Linked DNA regions of Homo sapiens: region 2 is linked to region 1. Evidence: fine-mapped expression QTL. Tissue or cell type: whole blood. Region 1 holds a variant in brackets; the other region holds the start of a gene. All regions are shown on one strand. Distances are between the middles of the regions.

What was found. PIP is the estimated chance that this variant, and not a neighbour inherited with it, causes the effect.
Region 2: PRKRIP1 starts here. The variant in region 1 is fine-mapped to the expression of PRKRIP1 in whole blood (TOPMed, PIP above 0.99).

The regions. Positions count from the first base shown.
Region 1 is chr7:102,338,220-102,346,320 of GRCh38, forward strand. It overlaps SPDYE6 (speedy/RINGO cell cycle regulator family member E6), which reads right to left. Exons shown (of 8, transcript NM_001146210.4): 8 at 7,527-8,101. It also overlaps the pseudogene PMS2P12. Among named protein-coding and RNA genes, the nearest start is that of SPDYE6, 14 kb to the right of the region's middle. The variant G/A (reference allele first, on the strand shown) is at 4,544.
Region 2 is chr7:102,392,330-102,400,430 of GRCh38, forward strand. PRKRIP1 (PRKR interacting protein 1) reads left to right here and starts at 4,034. Exons shown (of 6, transcript NM_024653.4): 1 at 4,034-4,208; 2 at 5,291-5,369; 3 at 7,219-7,319. The coding sequence starts at 4,083. LOC100630923 (LOC100289561-PRKRIP1 readthrough) reads left to right here. Exons shown (of 9, transcript NR_038967.1): 5 at 5,291-5,369; 6 at 7,219-7,319. RefSeq lists a silencer at 3,890-3,969 and enhancers at 3,990-4,229, 4,011-4,552.

The DNA of each region.
Region 1 (8,101 bases):
TTTTTTTTTTTTTTTTAGACAGAGTCTCACTCTGTCACCCAGGCTGGAGTGCAGTGGCACAGTCTCAGCTCACTGCAATCTCTGCCTCCCAGGTTCAAGTGATTCTCGTGCCTCAACCTCCTAAAGAGCTGGGACTATAGCGTGCACCACCACTCCTGGCTAATTTTTGTATTTTTAGTAGAGATGGGGTTTTGCCGTGTTGCCCAGGCTGGTCTGGAACTCCAGGCCTTAAGTGATCTGCACTCCTCGGCCTCCCAAAGTGCTGGAATTACAGGCATGAGCCACCGCACCCTGCCCTACATATACATTTTAATTATAATATCTTTTGGATTCTTTAAAAATTTTAAAAAATTTTTTAATTCTTTAAAAAATTCTTTAAAACAATTTTATTTGAAGAGTAATAACAAAACAAATCTCTATTTGTGAATAAATAAACCTTGAGATCATTTATGGTTTTGCAATTCAACCTGAAAAATGAAATCAAAGCTTTTATCAAAACAAAGCATGTTTAGTGCTCTCTGTCTCACTGTCTTTTAGATGCCAAACCTTAGATTTTATGATGACTCCTCAACCGTTTAGATCTTGGTTATCTCAGAGGGATCATCAGCTTTTTAAGAAAGTTTTGAGAGAAAAGCAAGTGAAGAAAAGCGTAGTCAATGCTCAACATCACGGGTCTCTCACTGAACACACCACGCCTGGTATTCTCTCACAGCGATGTCACCATTTCTACCTGCCACGCATCGGCGAAGGTTGGGACTCGACTGGTGTTTGATCACTATGGGAAAATCATCCAGAAAACCCCCTACCCCCACCCCAGAGGGATGACAGTCAGCGTGAAGCAGTTATTTTCTACACTACCTGTGCGCCATAAGGAATTTCAAAGGAATATTAAGAAGGTACAGTAAATTAATCCTGGTTTTCAAGAGTATTGGTTAATGCACATGAGCAAAAGATTTACTAAAGATGTTTATTCTTCAGTTGATACTCTTGCCATAATCTATTGAGAAATGCTTTATTTGCATTTCTCGTTAAAGACTTAACATTAAAGACTTAACTTAGGGTGATTTACTTTTTTCTTTTCATCACATAGTGTTTATTAGGACTGGGCAACATAGTGAGACTCTGTTTCTATGAAAAATTAAAAAAAAAATTGACTGGGCATGGTGGCATCCACCTGTAGTTCCAGCTACTTGGGAAGCTGAAGTGGGAGATTCACTTGAGCCCAGAAACTTGAGGCTGCAGTGAGCTATGATTGCACCACTGTATTTCAGACTGGGAGACAGAGTAAGACCCTGTCTGGAAAAATATATATACATATATATATTTTATTTTTATTTTTTATTTTTATCTTTTTTTGAGATGGAGTCTCACTTTGGCGCCCTGGCTGGAGTGCAGTGGCACGATCTCGATTCACTGCAACCTCCACCTCCCGAGTTTAAGCGATTCACCTGCCTCAGCCTTCTGAATAGCTGGGATTACAGGCGCGCACCACCACACCTGGCTCATTTGTTTATTTTTAGCAGAGACGGGGTTTCACCATGTTGTCCAGGCTGGCCAGGCTGGTCTCGAATTCCTGACCTCAGGTGATCCGCCCACCTCGGCCTCTCAAAGTGCTGGGATTATAGGCGTGAGCAACCATGCCTGCCTTATGTACTTATATTTTAATGAGACTATTTCTCTTGGTTTTCTGATAAATGAGTTACTGGAACCCTTATGAATCTGAATGCAAAAGAAACAGCTAAATGTTATGTAATTGTTGTGTTTAAAAACCAGATTATAAAACTATCTGTATTATATGATTACAGTTTAATAAAAACAAAACAACGGCCTAAATGTGTATAGTATAAAGGCTGGAAGAGTCAGCACTTTCATGTTCTCAGCGGTTATCCTTGGATGTGAGATCTCATGCACTTTTTGCTCTCTTCTTTGTGCCTTTCCATTTTGTATGTGTATTTTTTACAATCTAAAAAGTTACTTAAACATATGCAGCTAAAAACTTTTTTTACTCGTAAAGCATTTGGTGCTAATTTTAACTGTTCTTTTTTTAGACAGAGTCTTCTCACTCTGTTGCCCAGGCTGGAGTGCAGTGGTGTGATCTTGGCTCACTGCAACCTCTACCTCCTGGGTTCAAGTGATTCTCCTGCCTCAGTCTCCCAAGTAGCTGGGATTATAGGTATGTGTCACCATGACCAGCTAATTTTTGTATTTTTAGTAGAGATAGGGTTTCACCATGTTGGCCAGGCTGGTCTTGCACCCCTGACCTCAAGTGATCTGCCTGCCTCAGCCTCCCAAAGTGCTGGGATTACAGGCATGAGCCACCACACGTGGCCTTTTTTTTAAAGCTTTTTTGTAAGTCAGCTAGCAAGAACACAGGAAGAAATACTCAAATCTCCCTTACCCAGCTGGGGGCTATGTCAGGTTTTATAAGCATAGGGTAATGAGTTGTGATTTGATTGGATCTTGCAATAAAGTAATGCTGGGAGGTGTGATCTGACTGGATCCTGCCATGGGATGACACCAAAACTCAATCTGATTGGATCCTGGCTCCTGCCATGGAGTGTCCAGTTCTTAAATCAGTCTCAGCTCTTCAGGCCGAGCTCTTAGGTTCCACTCCGTGGTTGCATGCTTGGTTAACCTGGGCATGCACAGGGTACATGCCCTTCAACCTGTGGGTCCATGGCAATTGAAAAACAACTGACAACCTCATTACATAAAAGTTGAACTGAGCCGGGTGCAGTGACTCACGCCTGTAATCCCAGCACTTTGGGAGGCCAAGGCAGGTGGAGGTCAGGACTTCAAGACCAGCCTGGCCAAAATGGTAAAACCCCGTCTCTACTAAAAATATAAATGTTAGCCAGGTGTGGTGGTGCACCCTTATAATCCCAGCTATCTGGAGGCTGAGGCAGCAGAATCACTTGAACCTAGGAGGTGGAGGTTGCAGTGAGCTGAGTTAGTACCATTGCACTCCAGCCTGGGTGACAAGAGTGAAACTCCGTCAAAAAAAAAAAAAAAGTTGAACCAGATTTGGTCTGATGCAGTTACAGATCTACAAACCTCACCCCCACCCTTCTGCCAACACCTTCCACTCCTCATTCTTGAGGGATTAGGGATGGAGGTCATGCTTCTGCTTCGACTTCATGCTGAGCAGGGCACTGAGTCCCCTAAAGTGAAAGGAATGAAACTCCTGGGCTTCTGAGTTCAAATGAGTTCTGGGGTCACCCGGAGTAGCTTGAAAGGCTGGTATTGTTGTAATACAAGCTGAAGGTGGAAGTGTTGGATCCTGGAGAACAAACAGCTCACCATCCATTTAAATAAATAGGACCAAAAAGTAACAGAACAGTGGCCACGAGGGGCCCCAACAGAGGAAGAAACCAGGTGAGGTGCGGTATAGTGGACTCGACTGCCTTCTAAATCTCAGTTGTTGGCTGGGTGCGGTGGCTCACACCTGTAATTCCAGCAAAAGAAAAGCCGAGGCAGGGTGATCACGAGGTCAGGAGTTCAAGACCAGCCTGGCAAACATGGTGAAGCCCTGTCTCTACTAAAAATACAAAAATTAGCTAGGCATGGTGGCATGTGCTGTAGTCCCAGCTACTCGGGAGGCTGAGGCAGGAGAATCGCTTGAACCCGGGAGGCGGAGGTTGCAGTGAGCCGAGATTGTGCCACTGCACTCCAGCCTAGGTAACAGAGCAGGACTCCATCTCAGTCAATCAATCAATCAATCAATCTCAGCGGTTGAACTACCCTTGACATGGTTCAGCTCTGTATCCACACCCAAATCTCATGTCAAATTGTAATTCCCAGTGTTGTGGGAGGGACCTGGTGGGAGGTGATTGGCTCATGGGGGCCGACTTCCCCCTTGCTGTTCTCGTGATATTGAGTGAGCGCTTGTGGGATCTGGTTGTTTAAAAGCGTGCAGCCCTCCCACTTCACTCTCTCTGTCTCTCCTGCTCCAACATGGCCAGACGTGCCTGCTTCCCCTTCGCCTTCTGCCGTGATTGTCAGTTTCCTGAGGCCTCCCCAGCCACGCTTCCTGTACAGCCTGCAGAACTGTGAGTCAATTAAACCTCTTTTCTTCATAAATTACCCAGTTTCTCATAGTTCTTTATAGCAGTGTGAAAACAGACTAATGGACCCTTCTGGTTGAAGGAATGCAGCCATTCTGCTTGTTTGACTATGTCCTTTCTATTCATCTCTATTTCCTGGGAGGTGTTTATCCAAGTGCAATAGGAGGTATTGGTGACTGCACAGTCCCCTCAGTGTTCTGCTAGTAAATAGTTGAAGGTTGATCATTGATCTCCTGCGTTTTCAGTCTGGCATGGAAAAGCCCCCATGCAACTGGTAGTAAAGATATCAATAAGCACCAGGAGGTATCTAAATCCACCAGGAGCCATAGGCATCACGTTGACGTCCATTTACCAGTCTTCCCTGGCAAGATTCTTCTGAATTGTGCTGCCTTGGCCAAAAGAGGTGTGGGAGGGGCTGGGCGCAGTGGCTTGTGCCTGTAATCCCAACATTTTGGGAAACCAATTCAGGTGGATCATTA[G/A]AGGTCAGGGGTTCAAGACCATCCTGGCCAACATGGTGACATCCCATCTCTACTAAAAATACAATAAGTTAGCTGGGTTTGGTGTTGGGTGCCTGTAATCCCAGCTACTCGAGAGGCTGAGGCAGGATAATCGCTTGAACCTGGGAGGAGGAGGTGGCAGTGAGCTGAGATCGTGCCATTGCACTCCAGCGTGGGCAACAAGAGTGAAACGTCGTCTCAAAAAATAAAAAAAAAAGTCCGGGCGTGATGGCTCACACCTGTAATCCCAGCACTTTGAGAGGCCAAGACGGGTGGATCACGAGGTCAGGAGTTCAAGACCAGCCTGGCCTAGATGGTGAAACCCTGTCTCTACTAAAAATACAAATATTAGCTGGGCATGGTGGCATGCACCTGTAATCTCAGCTACTCAGAAGTCTGATGCAGGAGAATTGCTAAAACCCAGGAGGGGGAGGTTATATTGAGCTGAGATTGCACCACTGCACTCTAGCCTGGGCGACAGAGCAAGACTCCGTCTCGAAAGAAAGAAAGAGAAAGGAAATTCCCCAGGGAAGTACCTCGGCTGATTTCATAAACAGGTACCGAAGGAAGCAGAGGCATGTGGAGGACTTCCCCACCTCGTGCAGCTATTTGGGCCGTGGCGTCTGAAATTTATTATTTCAGAGTCACCCCTTTGATGACCTTGGCAGTGAACTGCAGTCATCTGTTTAGGCCTTTCCATGGCCCACGTCAATGCCGTTATTTCTGTTTGTTGCACATTTGATTTCCTTGTTGTTGGCATTTAGAAGGCCCCCTGCTTCCCAGATCACACCACGGGCATGGACCACAGAGATTGCATCTTGTGAGTCTGTAGAAATGGTCAAGGCCTTGTCCTCTCTTAGGTCCAGAGCTCAGGTGAATGCAGATTTTCCCGGCCATCTGTGCTGAAGTCCCTGTGGGGAGGCTCCTGGCTGGTTTCCTGTAGGTAGACAGCTACACGTCCTGCCCTTCATTGGCTTCTTTTCATGAAGCTCCTGCCATCTACAAAACATGTCTCCCTTCTTGAATCACTTCTCTGTTATTGAAACTCTAGAAGTCAACCGGGCATGGTGGCTATGCCTATAATCCCAGCATTTTGGGATGCCAAGGCGGGTGGATCACCTGAGGTCAGGAGTTCAAGACCAGCCTGGCCAACATGGCGAAACCCCGTCTCTAATACAAATACAAAAATTAGCCAAGCATGGTGGCCACTGTACTCCAGCCTGGGCGACAGAGCAAGACTCTGTCTCGAAAAAAAAAAAAAAAAAAAAAAGAGAAAGAAAGTATCATGCTTTTCTGCATTCTGTGAATTGTTTTAGTGAGTTATCGAACTTGAGGGCATGGTGGGAACCTCCAAATTTGCAGCCAGTTGGTGAGAAGTACATGTGGTCTGAGGACACCCAAGCCTGCAGGTGTGTCTAAAGCGAGGGCAGCCTAGTAGGGGCTGGTGGCCTTAACCTGTGGCATTTGAGGTAACATCAGGGAGTTGACATCAGAATTGCATCACATAGGCTGGGCGCGGTGGCTCACACCTGTAATCCTAGCACTTTGGGAGGCCAAGGCGGGCAGATCACGAGGTCAGGAGATCGAGACCATCCTGGCTAAGACAGTGAAATCCCGTCTCTACTAAAAATACAAAAAATTAGCCAGGCATGGTGGCGGGCGCCTGTAGTCCCAGCTACTTGGGAGGCTGAGGCAGGAGAATGGCGTGAACCCAGGAGGCGGAGCTTGCATTGAGCCAAGATCACGCCACCGCACTCCAGCCTGGGTGACAGAGCGAGACTCCATCCCCCCCCCAAAAAAAAAAAGACCAAAAACAGAATTGTGTCTCAGGCCAGATGCAGTGGCTCATGCTTATAATCCCAGCAATTTGAAAGGCAAGGTAAGAAGATCGCTTGAGCTTGAGTCTGAGGCCGCAGTGAGCTATGACCACACCACTGCACCCCAGTCTGGGTGACAGCGCAAGACCCCAACTCCAAAAAGGAAAAAGAAAAATCACAAAGAATTGCATGTCAGAGTGCCTGTCTTTCACAGCTTTAACTGCTGCAGGAACGAACTTTTTTTTTTTTTTTTTTTTTGAGAGGGTGTGAGGAGACACAATCTCTGCTAGTGATTCTCCTGCCTCAGCCTCCCAAATAGCTGGGATTATAGGCGTGCACCACCACGCCTGCCTAATTTTTGTATTTTTAGTAGAGACAGGGTTTCACCATGTTGGCCAGGCTGGTCTCAAACTCCTGCTGGGATCATGGGCGTGAGCCACCACGCCCGGCCACCTTTAGAGTTTTCTTACCACCTGGTTTTCCTCTCTCAATATCTTTCTCTCATTTCCTGCCTTAAAACTCTAGCTTGGCATCTGGGCGCAGTAGCTCATGCCTGTAATCCCAGCACTTTGGGAGGCCGAGGTAGGTGGATCACTTGAAGTCAGGAGTTCGAGACCAGCCTGGCCAACATGGTGAAACCTTGTCTCTACTATTTTTACAAAAGTTAGTCGGACGTACAGACGGGTGCCTGTAGTCCCAGCTACTTGGGAGGCTGAGGCAGGAGAATTTGTTTGAACCCAGAGGTGAAAGTTGCAGGGAGCCGAGGTTGTGCCACTGCACTCCAGCCTGGGAGACAGAGCAAGACTCTGTCTCCAAAACAAACAAACAAACAAAAAAACCCTGTAGCTTGGGATCAGCCTTCTCTTCTATTGTTTTTCTTTAAAAAATAAAAATTAAAAATAGATGTAGATGCTATGTTGCTGAGGCTGGCCTCAAACTCCTGGCCTCAGGTGATCCTCCCACCATGACCTCCAAAACCGCAGGGATTGTAGGTGTGAGCACTGCACCCAGCCTTATGTTTTTTTCTACATAAAAAACAGCACAGGATTATCTTCCAGAGCTAATAAATATGTTCAAATAACCACAACCCCATTAAGGAAAAATATCACTGGGCAGCAAATAATCAATCCAGACCAATATGATCACAATTGCTGTGAAGGTGAGAAAAGTTCATTTTTATTATGTTTCCCCAAGAGACCCACTCTATTGTTCTCTTGAAAACACACAGCTCATGTCCTCCTTTAGAACACACATTCTCTTTAAAGTAATATACAAACATGCCAAAACAAGGTAAAAAATTACATCTGAATTCTCACATTTCAAACATATATGAAATATCAAATAAAAATTTATTTTTACAAGAATTTAGGGGAACTACTACATAGCTATAAATGTAATATATATGTTAACTAAGTATCATAGATAAAATCCATGCTCCCTTCAGCAGCACGTGTAATAATAGATACAAAGATTGAAAGGTAAAAGATTTAGGATGAAAAGAATCCTCTCTTAAAAAGGAAAACAAAATTATATGTATGTGTATATAACAGTTATAATACCCATCACACAGCTTTGTAGAAACAGCATCTATTCAAAAATACCAGTATTTCCAAAATATTTAAAATAATATTTAATGTAAAAATAATATTTAAATAAATAAATATATTTAATAAATATTTAAATAAATAAAATAATATTTAAATAATTCTATACCCATGTTTTT
Region 2 (8,101 bases), 54 kb after region 1:
CCACTCTACACCATGCCAGGGTTAGATGCTGGGATTCTGGCCCAGCCCACCACACTGCCAAGCCCATGGGGACACAGATGGTGAGGACATAGTGGTAACTACTTCACCAGTTATTGGGATTCAGAGCTGGGAGAGCACCAAGAAGGGAGCAATTCACTTCCTGGAAGTGAGGGGTGGGAGAGGCAATCTGAGAAGGCTTCTTGGAGGAGGTAGCATTTTGGCCAAGTTGAGAAGCCTGTATGGGAGTTCTCCAAGGAGGAAAAGATGCTTTGTTTTGTAGACAAAAACCTTCGTTCTGTGGAGTGTTTGGAGAAAAGTGAGGTACTGGTTGCTAATGTGTGTGATCCTGGGTGAGTTTGTGTGCATGGCCCCAGCCAGGCCAAGCCCTCCCCAGGTTCCAGTGACAGACCTGGGCCACTAAGGACCCTTAATTCCACCCTGAGCTCCTAGAAAACCACCCACTATTGGGCAGCCAGGAATGACCTTTGGAGAACAAACACTTCACCCTCCAGGTACCATCCACTTGTCCACCTGTTCATCCTCTTGGGGACTCAGTGGGAGGGCGACCCTGTCCCTAGGAGCCCATGTCCCTCCAGCAAATGTTTCTTTTATTTTTATTTTTATTTATTTATTTATTTTGAGACAGAGTCTTGCTCTGTCGCCCAGGCTGGAGTGCAAAGGCGTAATCTTAGCTCACTGCAACCTCTGCCTCCCAGGTTCAAGCAATTCTCCAGCCTCAGCCTCCCGAGTAGCTGGGATTACAGGTGTGCACCACCACGCCTGGCTATTTTTTGTATTTCTAGTAGAGACGGGGTTTCACCATGTTGGCCAGGCTGGTCTCAAACTCCTGACCTCAGGTGATCTGCCCACCTCGGCCTCCCAAAGTGCTGGGATTACAGGCATGAGCCACCACACCAGGTTTTTGTGGTCACGGAATGGTCTTGTGTGATGTTGGTGTCCTGGAAATTACTTTTGTTTGACAAGAGAACACCAAGACCCAGCTGTGAATGTCTGTCCAGCTCCCAGGGAAACAGAACAGGAACTGGACAGAGCTTCTCCTTCACATCCTTTCCCTTTTTCCTTCTTTTGTCCCACTGATCACAAAACCCACACCATTGCCTCGCTGACAATATAGCTGCTAACCCCGAGGCTTTAGTCATACAAAGAAAATAAAGAACGAAACTGTCTCAAAAAAAAAAAAAAAAAAAAAAGAATTCCAGAGACTGGCCTTAGGAGATCCAAATATCAAATGAAGCTTGCGGAGTGTCCCACCTCGGGAAGGAATGCTGAACAATTGATTGACACCCTTGTTGCCACCAGCCAGACTACCAGGTGACTCATTACTTAAGATAACCATCGCAACCAGATATGCGACCTGCATACCCTCAAAACCAGATATGCGACCTGCATACCCTCACGTGCTTTGCCCAGCCCAGCCTGCATACCCTACCCCTGATGTCAATTCCCATGCTTTGCCTAATAAAAAAAATTCCCAGCCAGGCGCAGTGGCTTATGCCTGTAATCCCAGCACTTTGGGAGGCCGAGGCGGGCGAACCATGAGGTCAGGAGATTGAGACCATCCTGGCCAACATGGTGAAACCCTGTCTCTACTAAAAGACAAAAAATTAGCCGGGCGTGGTGGCGTGCACCTGTAGTCCCAGCTACTCGGGAGGCTGAGGCAGGAGAATTGCTTGAACCTGGGAAACGGAGGTGCAGTGAGCTGAGTTCGCACCACTGCACTCCAGCCTGGCGACAGAGCAACACTCTGTCTCACAAAAAAAAAAAAAATTCCCCACTGGCTCTTCCACAAGTCAGCTGGAGGATCCCTTCACTTCTGCTTCCATTGTCTTCCCTGCACTCAAGCACAAGCTCTGAAATAAATGCCTTGTCTGGGAAATCTGCTTGGATCCCTGTTAAGTTTCATTACAAGGGGAGCCAAACAGCCTATGGTCTGTAACACCAAATGTATGTGAGCAACAGCTTTTCTCTTTCTCTTTCTCTCTCTAATTTTTTTTTCTTTTTCTTTTTCTTTTTTTTAGACACAGAGTCTTGCTCTGTCACCCAGGCTGGAGTGCAGTGGCACGATCTTGGCTCACAGCAACCTCCATCTCCCAGTTTCAAGCTATTCTCCTGTCTCAGCCTCCTGAATAGCTGGGATTACAGGCACACACCACCACACCTGGCTAATTTTTGTATTTTTAATAGAGATGGGGTTTCACCATGTTGGCCATGCTGGTCTCAAACTCCTGACTTCAAGTGATCTGCCCATCTCGGCCTCCCAAAACGTTGGGATTACACGTGTGAGCCACCATGCCGGGCCTTTTCTGTTTCTCAATGTCAACTAAACAAAAAATCAGGCTTTTAAAAAATTAAGGTTGGTTTTTTGCAATCTTACTGAGGACTGTAACCAGGGAAAGTCTTTCACAGAGTTTGTTAAACTGCTCCAAAACAGAGTTTCAGCACACATTTATATATTTATATTTATATACAGTTTATATAAAAACATTTATATACAGTTGGTGGTGCCCTGCATGTGCTCAGAAGTTATATCAAGCTGGGCGTGGTGGCTCATGCCTATAATCCCAGCACTTTGGGAGGCTGAGGCGGGTGGATCACCTGATGTCAGGAGTTCGAGACAAGCCTGGCCAACATGGTGAAACTCCATCTCTACTAAAAATACAATAATTAGCCAGGCGTGGTGGCGTGCACCTGTATTCCCAGCTACTCAGGAGACTGAAGCAGGAGGATCACTTGAACCTGGGAGGCAGAGGCTGCAGTCAGCCGAGATTGCATCACTGAGCTCTAGCCTGGGGGACAGAGTGAGACTCTGTCTCAAAAAAAAAAAAAAAAAGTTATATCTAATGTGCTCAGAAGTTAACAATAGAGCAAAATTTCATCAAGGCTGTGTGTGAGGGTATTATCTAGTTACAGATTACAGAGGCTTGGCTGGGCATGGTGACTTAACACCTATAATTTCAGCACTTTCGGAGGCCCAGGCAGGAGGATCGCTTGAGCCCAGGAGTTCAAGACCAGCCTGGGCATCACAGCAACACCTTGTCTCTGCAAAAAATAAAAATAAAAAATTAACTGGGTGTGGTGGCATGCGCCTGTAGTCTCAGCTACTCAGGAGGCTGAGGTGGGAGGAGTGCCTGAACCCGGGAGTTCAAGGCAGCAGTGACCTATGATCGAGCCCCTGCACTCCAGCCTGGGCAACCAAGCGAGACCCTGTCTCTAAAAAAAAAAAAAAAGTTATAGAAGCATAATCATTAATCCCGTCAGAGATTATGTACAGGAAGAGGCAGGGGCTAGGATCATTGAACTTGTCTTTTCTAAAAATGCAGTGTTCAGGCAAGAGAGGTGGAAACCTGTGTTCTCTCTCGCTCTTCCCAGCTTATTGTTCAGGGCGTTATTGGAGAGGGCTGCGCTCAGTCACCGAGTCACGGCCTTTGTGAAATCCTGCTCGCAAGCAGAATGAGCAGACATGGTTCCTTAGGTTTATTACTGTGCCTCACACTACGAGACGGTCATTCATTGGCAGAGGTGTATTTGCGGGGGGCCAGGTATAGAGTAATTCAAGGCGGACAAAGGAGGAATGTCCCAGTCTTCAGGAAGCTCAGTGACATGTTTGCGCTGTCTTATGTAAACAGGAGATTGTCAGAAATGGAGGAGGGGGCACCAGATCCAAGGAAGTGCCCGGACAAAGCCGGGAGGCGAGGAGAGCCGACGGGGAGGAGGTGCCGAGAGCATCAGCGGGGCTGCTCGGTGGCACGAAGACGCCCGCGGGGACTGGAGAGGTCGGCTAGGGCCAGGCTACTCAGGCACGGAGGGCCACCTCCCCTTCAGGGACGTGAGCATCTAGCTGCACTGATTTGTTGTTCAGGAACAGGAAATGAAACCCCGCAGCTTTGAACACAATAACCCACGCCAGCCTCAGGCTCATGAATATTCAGCAGGCTGCTTGCGCCTTGCAACCCCGCCTCCGTTCCCCTCTGCGGAGACTGCGTATGCGTCGCCGGCGCGCGGCTGTGTCGTCATACTTGCGCGCCGACGCCGCCGCTCGCTTGTGAAACTGGAAGGCTGCCATGGCTAGCCCAGCCGCCTCCTCGGTGCGACCACCGAGGCCCAAGAAAGAGCCGCAGACGCTCGTCATCCCCAAGAATGCGGCGGAGGAGCAGAAGCTCAAGCTGGAGCGGCTCATGAAGAACCCGGTGAGACGAGGCCCAGGCTCCACGGCCCGTCCGAGGCCCACCCCCTTCCTCTGCAGCGCTTCAGGGTTCCCGCAGGTCCACCTTCCCCGCCTCCAAACTCAGAAACTCAGTATCCGACCCTCCAAGAGCAGTCTTTGGGGAGGAGGAGGAGAAGGAGGCTGTCCCGGAGATAGTGAACTTCCCGTCTGTCCTTGTGTGAGAGCCCAGCTTGAATCAAAGCACGGTGGAGCGGCTTCCCGTGCTCCAAGACCCCTTCTGGTTTAACTTTCTGTGAACAAAAAGCGTTAGACTGAAAAGGTAGAATTTGTGGGTTAGCAAAAGGGTATACTCTAAACAACACTGATCGTTAGAGAGACAGTGGCCGAGACGTTTGGAGCTGGTCACTCCTCTCCCGCTCACACCCCCTCTGGGCCTCGGTCCCCTCAATCATAAAAACAATTGAACGGGAACGTCCTTTATACCTTTAACTAGAAAAGCTTGACTCTTCTTATCTAGTAGTGTTAAAGTTGGCGGTTTCTAGCTGGAAACTATGGCTTAGGTTTTTCAGTTCTGCTCTGGAAAGCGTAGCCCTGGGAAGGTGTGGACTGTGTTATACCCAAGAGTACATAGGATGAAAAAAGCCACGACAGAGGGAAGAACACAAAATCAGCTCTGTGTCCAAGTAGCAAAGCAGTCCTGCTTCATTAGTCAATTAAAATTCTTTGGTCTTAAGAGATGTAACTTGGGCTGGGTGCTGTGGCCCCTGCCTGTAATTTCAGCGCTTTGGGAGGCCAGGCGGGAGGATGGTCCGAGGCCAGGAAGGAGTTCAAGACCAGCCTGGGCAACATAGTGGGTCCCTGTCTTTACAAAAATAAAAAAATTGCCTGGTGTGGTGGTGTACGCCTGAGAGTCCTAACTATTCTGGAGACTGAACCGGGAGGATCACTTGAGCCCAGGAGTTCAAGGCTGCAGTGAGCTCTGATTGCACCACTGCACTCCAGCCTGAGGAACAGAGCAAGAACCTGTCTCTAAAAAAAGAGAGGGAGATATATAATTTTGTCAACAGGTTTATACTTAAATGCTTTCATGTTTAAATGTTGCAGGACAAAGCAGTTCCAATTCCAGAGAAAATGAGTGAATGGGCACCTCGACCTCCCCCAGAATTTGTCCGAGATGTCATGGGTAATGGCTGTGTGTGTGTGTGTGTGTGTGTGTGTGTGTAAATATAATTTTTTAAGGTAGCTATAGGCTGGGCGTGGTGGCTCATGCCTCTAATCCCAGCACTTTGGGAGGCCGAGGCGGGCGGATCATGAGGTCAGGAGATCGAGACCATCCTGGCTAACACGGTGAAACCCCGTCTCTACTAAAAATACAAAAAAAATTAGCCGGGCGTGGTGGCAGGCACCTGTAGTCCCAGCTACTTGGGAGGCTGAGGCAGGAGAATGGCGTGAACCCAGGAGGCGGAGCTTGCAGTGAGCCGAGATGGCGCCACTGCACTCCATCCTGGGCAACAGAGCGACATTCTGTCTCAAAAAGAAAAAAAAAAGGTAGCTATAAAAATCCTGTAGTTGGTATTTGTTAAATCTCTGATGAGGGGAAATGTGTGTTCACATGTTCGTGTTTTGCTTTTACAATGACGGGGATATAGTTGCTTTTATTTGTTTTTCATTTGACATTGGTAAATTTAGCTTAAGGGCTATAGTTGCTTATGGTTTGGCACTATAGAATTTTCTCCTGCAGTATTGCGGTTTTTTTTGTTTTTGTTTTTGTTTTTGTTTTTCTTTTGGAGACAGAGTCTCACTCTGTCACCCAGGCTGTAGTGCAGTGACACCATCTCGGCTCACTGCAACCTCCGCCTTCCGGGTTCAAGCGATTCTCCTGCCTTAGCCTCCTGAGTAGCTAGGACTACAGGCCCGTGCCACCATGCCTGGCTGATTGTTTTATTTTTAGTAGAGACTGGGTTTCACTATGTTGGCCAGGCTGGTCTTGAACTCCTGACCTCAGGTGATCCGCCCGCCTCAGCCTCCCAAAATGCTAGGATTACAGCTGTGAACCACAGTGCCCGGCCATCTCCTGCATTATTCTTAATAACGCATTGTGGTTTTTTTGTAAATAAAAATAGTTTTATTATTTTGTTGGATCATAAATTAACATATCTACAGGCTTACCATGGAGATGGTGCGGGTTTAGTTCCAGGCAACCTAGTTAAAGTGAATGTCGCAATAAAGGGAATCATGTAAATTCTTTAGTTTCCCACTGCACATACAAGTTTTCTTTATACTCTACTGTAGTTTAATGTGCAATAGCATTATGTCTTTAAAAAGCAACATAGGCCAGGCACGGTGGCTCGTGCCTGTAATCCCAGCACTTTGGGAGGCCGAGACAGGAGAATTGCTCGAGTTTGAGACCAGCCTGGGCAACACAGGAAGACCTCATCTCTACTAAAAATGTAAAAATTAGCCAGGCATAGTGGTGCATGCCTCTGGTCCCAGCTACTTGGGAAGCTGAGGCAGGAGGATGGCTTGAGCCCAGGAGGTTGAGGCTCCAATGAGCTGTGATTGCGCCACTGCCCTCCATCTTGGGTGACAGAGCAAGGCCCTGTCTCAAAAAAAAGAAAAAAGCTGAAGAAAAAACACTTTTACAAAAATATGATTGTTCTACATATACAACTTTGTAAGCACCTTTATTTCATTTAATGTATCATGGATGTCTTTTCAACTCACTAGAAATTTAGCGTGTCAAATGTGAAATCATGGAGGAGGTGAGAAAGTCACTTAACCACAGTCTGCCCCTCCTGATACTGCATTTGAGTGGGATTTTTAGTGACTTTACATTCAACATTCATAGAACAAATAATTCACGACATCTACAATATGCCAGGTACTGGGCCAGTTCTGGATACAGTGGGGAGAAAGGAAGGCATGGTCCCTTCCACGACTTCCACTTTTTGTTTCTTTAGTCACCCTCGATTAAGGGTGACCTGTGTTGGTAACTGAATTTCATCTAGAACTGTGGACTGTTCTGGCTACAGGTTCAAGTGCTGGGGCCGGCAGTGGAGAGTTCCACGTGTACAGACATCTGCGCCGGAGAGAATATCAGCGACAGGACTACATGGATGCCATGGCTGAGAAGGTCAGTGAGCCAGAAGGCTGGCTGAGCCCCCATGTTTGGGCAGTGTGCGTGTACTTTCTTTAGAAAAAAGCATTTGAAGAGGCTGGGCGTGGTGGCTCAGGCCTGTAATCCCAGCACTTTGGAAGGCCGAGGCAGGGGATCACCTGAGGTCGGGAGTTTGAGACCAGCCTGACCAACATGGAGAAACTCTGTCTCTACTAAAAATACAAAATTAGCCAGGTGCATGCTTGTAATCCCAGCTACTCAGGAGGCTGAGGCAGGAGAATCTCTTGAACCCAAGAGATGGAGGTTGCAGTGAGCCAAGATCGTGCCATTGCACTCCAGCCTGGGCAACAAGAGCGAAACTCCATCTCAAAAAAAAAAAAAAAGAGAGAAAAGAAAAGAAAAAAGCGTTTGAGGAAGAATAGATACTGCTAGTTGTGGCTGGTGTGAGGTCTGCCTTCTACGGACAGCACAAAATGCAGAGTCTCTACTAAAAATACAAAACCCCGTCTCTACTAAAAATACAGAAATTAGCTGGGCGTGGTGGTGGGCAACTGTAGTCCCAGCTACTTAGGAGGCTGAGGCAGGAGAATTGCTGGAACGTGGGAGGTGGAGGTTGCAGTGAGCCTAGATTGCACCATTGCATGCCAGCCTGGGCGACAGAGTGAAACTCCATCTCAAAAAAAGGAAAAAAAAAATAACACCAAGAAATAATCATAAAATATTGTAATATTTAGCCATAAAAAGGAACAAACTACTGATCTGTACAGCAACTGGGATGAATCTTTAAACATGGTGAG